Linked DNA regions of Homo sapiens. The protein of the gene in region 2 interacts with the protein of the main gene of each other region in a biochemical or structural test. Each region holds a gene or a part of one and is shown on either strand. Other genes may lie near its edges.

Evidence for each region.
Region 1: the proteins of GOLPH3L (region 2) and EBAG9 form a complex in vitro, tested with the Homo sapiens proteins (one study listed by BioGRID).

What each region holds. Positions count from the first base shown.
Region 1 is NC_000008.11:109,542,876-109,546,704, reverse strand, and holds part of EBAG9 (receptor-binding cancer antigen expressed on SiSo cells), read right to left. Parts: intron 1-3,829. UniProt on the Homo sapiens protein: May participate in suppression of cell proliferation and induces apoptotic cell death through activation of interleukin-1-beta converting enzyme (ICE)-like proteases.
Region 2 is NC_000001.11:150,659,017-150,662,845, forward strand, and holds part of GOLPH3L (Golgi phosphoprotein 3-like), read right to left. Parts: intron 2,913-3,829; coding exon 2,798-2,912; intron 1-2,797. UniProt on the Homo sapiens protein: Phosphatidylinositol-4-phosphate-binding protein that may antagonize the action of GOLPH3 which is required for the process of vesicle budding at the Golgi and anterograde transport to the plasma membrane.

The DNA.
Region 1 (3,829 bases), on a different chromosome or scaffold from region 2:
GAAAAAGAATTATCTTGGGCCACACATAAAATACACTAACACTAACCAGAGCTGATAAGCCTAAAAAAATTGCAAAAAAATCTCATAATGTTTTAAGAAAGTTTACTAATTTGCATTGGGCTGCAGTCAAAGCCATCCTGGGCTATATGAGGCCCACAGGCAGCAGACTGGACAAGGTTGCTCGAGAAATTATAAACAAATATAGAGTGACAGAAAATATCAGCAGTGCCTTGTAATGAGGCAGGGAGAAGTGGGAAGGAAGGATCACTGACAGACATGACGAAACTTTTGGAGGTAATGGATATACTTACGGCTTCAGTTGTGGTGGTTTCATAGGTGAGTGTATATATATTCATCAAAACTAATCAAATTGTATACTTTAATTATATACAGTTTATTGCATTTCAATTAGAGCTCAAAAGAGCTGTTAAAACAATCTACACGAAGACATTTTTGAACAATATTATGTCACTTAAATTAGAACAGTGTTCATATTCTGGTTAGAATACTGTTTTAAAAACTCATTAACACCATCATAATCTTGTATCAATTATTTGTTACTTTCTAGAAAGCCAACTTCCATTAGGAAACTAGGACAATTAGTGAAAAGAAACATTATTTCAGAACTTCTCTAAAAACAGAAATCTGATTTCACAATAGCATTTCAATATACTGTAATAGCTTACTTTATATTTCATAAAAAGCATTCTTCTTAGTGATTAACATGTAATACTCATTCAATGCTCACAACAACCCTGGGAAGGACTTGAAGCAAGTACTATTTTGTCTCTACTTCAGATAAGAAAACTAAGGCACAGCGGGGTTAAGTAAGCTGCCAAAGATACAGAACTGATAAGTTATAGAACTGGAATTTGAACCCAAAGAGTCTGGTTGTAGTGTCTCAGTCCTTAAATATCACACTCATACTGCCTCCCTATGATTAAATAACAAGATATATGTCTTTATGAAAGAGATGATATAGGAATTGAAAACTACAGCCATAGCAATGATAGGAATAAAGATTCTAAAAATGATAAAACTATGCTGGGCGCGGTGGCTCACGTCTGTAGTCCCAGCGCTTTGGGAGGCTGAGGCGGGCAGATCACGAGGTCAGGAGTTCGAGACCAGCCTGGCCAATATGGTGAAATCCCGCGTCTACTAATAATACAAAAATTAGCCAGGTGCGGTGGCACATGCCTGTAGTTCCAGCTACTCAGGAGGCTGAGGCACGACAATCACTTGAACCCTGGGAGGCGGAGGTTGCGGTGAGCTGAGATCACATGACTGCACTCCAGCCTGGGCAACACAGTGAGACTCCATTTCAAAAAAAAAAAAGGTAAAACTGGCATTATTTTGGTAGCCTTTTTTTTTTTTTTTTTTTTTGAGACACAGTCTCGCTCTGTTGCCCAGGCTGGAGTGCCATGGTGCAATCTCAGCTCACCGCAACTTCCGCTTCCCGGGTTCAAGCAATTCTCCTGTCTCAGCCTCCTGAGTAGCTGGGACCACAGGTGCCTGCCACCACACCAGGTTAATTTTTGTATTTTTAGTACAGACAGGGTTTCAGCATGTTGGCCAGGCTAATCTCGAGCTCTTGACCTCAAGTGATCCACCCCCTCAGCCTCCCAAAGTGCTGAAATTACAGGTGTGGGCCACCACGCCCGGTCTGTATCCTTTTTAAACATGGTTCTTAATTTCCAAATTTTTCTTATACATCTTAGTCACCTATACTATATATGTATTGCATATATTGTATACTATATATGTACTGCATATATTTACCCTAATAATCACTATTTAATTTTAAAAATTTCTTAAGATGAGTTTTGGCACAAGTTAAAGTTGAAAACTTAAGTAACTATGACAATGTCCCGACTAAGAGCCTCAAAATACACACGAAAGAGGGAAAAAAATCTGTTAATCCATTAGAGATAGTCATTTTTCCACTGTTGAGAGGTAGAACAGACCACATGTTAAATCAAGTCACAAGAAATACACAGGCAAACATACATATGTGTGTGCATATGTGCACACACTTACAGGAATAACATTACTGATAATGGAATCTCATGTCTTAGCTTTTCCTTGCCTTCTCTTTGTCAAAGGAGGAGAATTACTATGTATTCAGAATCATGATTCCTGTCATTGGAACAGCTGGAGAATACGTCATCCAACTTCTTAAATTTTCTAAATGAGGAAACTAAGATACACTGAAGTTAACGGTTCTGCTCAAGGTGAAACAACCAGGTAATAACAAAATCACAACTAAAACAGACTGGCCTCTCAATCCATTAGTAACACCTTTAGAAACAATCACAACACTTGATTAATACAATTATTTAGAGTGCTGACTTCTTAAAACAAAAAGAAAAAACATACAGTAATTTGATAGTTTTTTTTCCCAGAATAAAAAAGCACAAGCAGTATATTTGGACTTCAGTTCTACACATACTTACTTAAAAGCGGATAAAACCTAACTTAAGTAATAATTATCATGTGACCACATTAAAGGGACAGCTATATACCTTTTTAAAATTGAAATGTTAATTAGTTTTTTAATTACCTTACATGAGCATAAGATAAGCAATAACATTTAGAAACATAAGGAGTAAAATCATCCTGGATAAATACACCATCCCTGTACTATAACATACTTTTTTTTTTTTTTTTTTTTAATTGAGATAGAGTCTTGCTGTGTCACCCAGGCTGGAGTGTAGCAGTACAATCTTGGCTCACTGCAACCTCTGTCTCCTGGGTTCAAGTTATTCTCGTGCCTCAGCCACCCCCAAATCTGAGACTACTGGCACATGCCACCACACCCGCTAATTTTTGTATTTTTACTAGAGACGGGGTTTCGCCATGTTGGCTAGGCTGGTCTCGAACTCCTGGCCTCAAGTGATCTGCCTGCCTCAGCCTCCCAAAGTGCTGGGATTACAGGTGTGAGCTACCATGCCCAGCCCATGCTTTTTAAAAATGCATTTCATGGGGATTCAAGACTCCTAAAGTCTTGAAAAAAGCAGCTTTTTACCTAATAAAATATTACATTGAATAGGTTAAAAATTATATAGTAAAAAAAAATGGTCATCTCTGATAGGGTATACTGAAGCATTAGAGAGCTAAGATCTAATATCTCAATCTGAGTAGTAACACCACATACTTGACTGTATGTACTGTTTGTATGCTATACCTCAATACGAAAGTTCCAAACAAACACATAAAAAATAAGAACAAAACAAAATCAGAAAGCCAGAAAAACATACTTAACTCTCATAGTATCTGATCTTGATTGCTCTGTAAAGGCATCATTGCCAATTTCTTCTAAGGAAAGGCAAAACGCACACTAGTCTTTTCTATTTCTAGGGTCAGAAGGGGCTTGTAGGCTATTAAGGTACAAAGACAGGGCTCTAAAATGTTACCTTAGCAATACTCAAGTAGTTTTGTACATATGGAGGCTGTCTCTCCATATAAGCTGAAAGATTTACTGAATGCCTAACCTGGAAGTGGCCTACTAATTGACAGGATGAAAAGAACAGTGACTGTTAAAAAAAAAAAAAAAAAAAAAAAAAAAAAAAGAACCAGAATATTAAAAATTGTACTCGAGTTATTTAAATACTTCTGTCAAAAACATCCCAACCAGTGGTTTACTCAAGTTCAAATCATGCAACAATGCTGACTCCTCCTTTCTTTCTCCTTACACCTAATTGCCAAAAAGACCCTATTCAATTTCCCAGTACTGCCCATATTCTTTCCTATTTCCACTGTAATCTATCTAGCATAAGCCTTTACTACCTCTTGCTGGAGTACTGTAAAGTCTTCTTAATTCTAGTATTTT
Region 2 (3,829 bases):
AGGAGCTGCAGACAGATTAACAGCTAGTAACCCATTAAAATGGATAAAAACACTTGGAAGCCCTTTGATTTCAATGATAATTGTGTTATTAATCTGTGTTGTTTGTCTCTGTATAGTCTGCAGGTGTGGATCCTGACTTCTGTGAGAAGTAGCTCACCTTGACAAAGCTGCCTTTGCTTTTATTGCTTTGTAAAACAAAGAAGGGGGACGTGTTGGGAATAGGCCTCAAAAATCTGGCCATAAACTGGCCCCAAAACTGGCCATAAACAAAATCTCTGCAGCACTGTGACATGCTTGTGATGGCCTTGATGCCCATGCTGGAAGGTTGTGGGTTTACTGGAATGAGGGCAAGGAACACCTGGCCCACCCAGGGCGGAAAACTGCTTAAGGTGTTCTTAAACCACAAACAATAGCATGAGAGATCCGTGCCTTAAGGACATGTTCATGCTGCAGATAACTAGCCAGAGCCCGTCCCTTTATTTCGGCCCATCCCTTTATTTCCCATAAGGAATACTTTTAGTAAACCTTATGATTGGCTTGCTGTCAATAAATATGTGGGTAAATCTCTGTTCAAGGCTCTCAGCTCTGAAGGCTGTGAGACCCCTGATTTCCCACTCCACACTATATTTCTGTGTGTGTGTGTCTTTAATTCCTCTAGCGCCACTGGGTTAGGGTCTCCACAACTGAGCTGGTCTCGGCAAGATTAATATCCAGAATATATATAAAGAACCTCTGGCCAGGCACAGTGGCTCATGCCTGTAATCCCAGCATTTTGGGAGACCAAGATGGGTAGACTGTCTGAGCTCAGGAGTTCAGAGACCAGCCTGGGTGACATAGCAAAACCCCATCTCCACCAAAAACACAAAAAATTAGCCAGGTGTGATGGTGCGCACCCATAGTCCCAGTTACTTGGGAGGCTGAGGTGGGAGGATCCTTGAGCCCGGGAGATAGAGGTTGCAGTGAGCCGAGATTGCACCACGGCACTCCATCCTGGGTGACAGAGTGAGACCGCATCTCATAAATAAATACAAAAAAACCTCAACAACAACAAAACAATCAAACTTAAAAATGGGAAAAGTATTTTATATTTCTCCAAAGAAGATATATAAATGGTCAGTAAGCACATAAAAATATGCTCAATATTTTTAGTCATTAGGAATGACATGAAAACTATTTTCATTTGAAAATAAAAATCAAAACCACAATGAGATAACATTTTAGGCCTACTCGGATGTCTATAATTAAAAAAAAGAAAAGAAAGAGAAGAACAAGTGGTGATCAGCATGTGGACAAATTGGAACCCTGGTGCATACTGGTGGGAATATAAAATGGTGCAGTCTCTGTGGAAATGTTTGGTGATTTCTCAAAAGGTTAAACATAAAACTGCTATATGACCCAGCAATTCTATTCCTAGGTATATATCCAAAAGAATTAAAAACAGGAACTTGAACAGATATTTGTGTATCAATGTTCACAGCAGCATTATTCACAATAGCCAAAAGGTGGAAACAAGGCAAGTGTCCATCAACAGATGAATGGTTAAACGAAAGTGTTATATACATACAACGGAATATCACTCAGCCATAAACAGGAATGAAATTTTGATATATGCTGTGACATGAATGGACCTTGAAAACATTATGCTTGGTGAATAAGCTAGGGAAAGTAATGACAGATATTGTATGATTCTACTTATATGAGGTACCTAGAGTAAGCAAATTCATAGAAAAAGAAAGTAGAATAGAGGTTGCCAGGGACTGGGGGGAGAGAGAAAGAGGAAGTTATCATTTAATAGGTACAGAGTTTTAATGGGTAATGATGAGGAAGCTTTGGGTATAGTATAGATAGAGGTGACGGTTACAAAATATTGCAAATATATTTAATTTCACAGAATTGTACACTTAAGAATGGCTAAAATAATAATAAATGTTGGCTGGGCGCGGTGGCTCACGCCTGTAATCCCAGCACTTTGGGAGGCCAAGGCGGGCAGATCACGAAGTCAAGAGTTCGAGACAAGCCTGGCCAATATGGTGAAACCCTGTCTCTACTAAGAATACAAAAATTAGCCAGGCGTGGTGGCACGTGCCTGTAATCCCAGCTACTTGGGAGGCTGAGGCAGGAGAATTGCTTGAACCCGGGAGGCAGAGGTTGCAGTGAGCTGAGATTGCATCACTGTACTCCAGCCTGGACGACAGAGCAAGACTCCATCTCGAAATAATAATAATAATAATAAATGTTATGTATATTTTACCACAGTAAGAATGTTACTCGTTGATTTACATATGACCCAGTTATCTACTCCTAGCTACATACCCACAAGAAATGAAAACATGTTCAAACAAAAACTTGTCCGTGCGTGTTCACAGCAGCATTATTCACAATACCCAAAATGTGGAAATAACTCAAAGATTCATCAACTGATGACTGGATAAACAAATGTGGTATGGCCATGCAATAAAATATTATTTGGCAAATTAAAACTGGGAAATTCTAATAAGAATAATAGACTGCATCAATGCCAATATTCTCATTGTCCTCTCAATAAAGATGTTTTAAAAGTTTCTTGTGAAGAATACTATTTAAGGGCTTTTGGGGTGGGGTGGCAGAAGATAAGGTGAAGCTTTGGAAAACTTTAGGTATCAATTAACCATGCTTTTTCTGTCCCTCATTAGAATTAAATAGTGAACCACATCTATCTCATCCAGCACGATGAATTTCGGTACATCTTTTACTAAATTTCAGGGTAGGATAAAGATAACAAAGTGTGAAATTCATATATTATTTTAAGTCATCTTACCAGTGAGTAGCTCTATCCATGTTTGGACAGTTTCTGTGGGTTCAGTTGCTTTGATGTGTTTCAGAGTTTCATCCAGTAAAACATCACCTGTTGGGCTGTCTGACTTTAGCAGTACCTTTGAGAAAAGGAGAAAGAAGGAACCCTGATTCCTTCACTTCATTCAAGTTAAAATCTTTCAATATATCATGTATATGTTACTGGTTAAAAATTGCAAGAATGTAAGGAAGCATAATATACTGTCTCTGTCCTCAAGAAGTTTAAAATATAGTATGGAGTGATAGTGCAAAGACAAAAATAACATTTGAAGTGGGCCCTAGTGACAAACTGGATATGAATGATAATGGAGAAAAGTTTCAATAACAACTCATTTTGAGTCTGGAAACCAACTTTTGAAACCATTAATAAAGGTAGGAAACAGCTGGGCTCAGTGGCTCATGCCTGTAATCTTAGCACTTTGGGAGGCTGAGGCGGGTGGATCACCTGAGCTCAGGAGTTTGAGACCAGCCTGGGCAAAATGGCAAAATCTTTTCTCTATTAAAAAAATAAAAATTTAAATAAATAAATAAATAAATAAACAAAGGCAGGAAAGTCAGAAAAGGAAGTCAGTTTTGGGGAAAGGTTGATAATTTGGTTTTCTTTCATTTTTGTTAAGTTTGGTTTTAAATGATATGGGATAGCCAAGTTGAAATTTCTAGCCAATAGTTAAATATGTTTCTGGAGGTGGAAAAACAAGACCTGCCTAGAAATTTGAAAATTAATCTCATGAAGGTGACAGACGAAGCTATAAAGGTAAATGATATCTCTGAAAGGACAGAAGATCACTCAAGTGATACAAACTGAGACTTGGATGTTAAGAAATGGAGAAGTAAGGAAACAGTGTATAGTCAGAGAAGCAAGAGAATAAGATAATAACAAAGGCCAATAATGAAGAAAGTTTCAAAGTGATAAAAAGTGTCAAATGACACATATAGGTTAAAAGAGAAAAATAAATCAAAGACTGAAAAGAAGCTGGTGATACCTAAGAATGTAGTT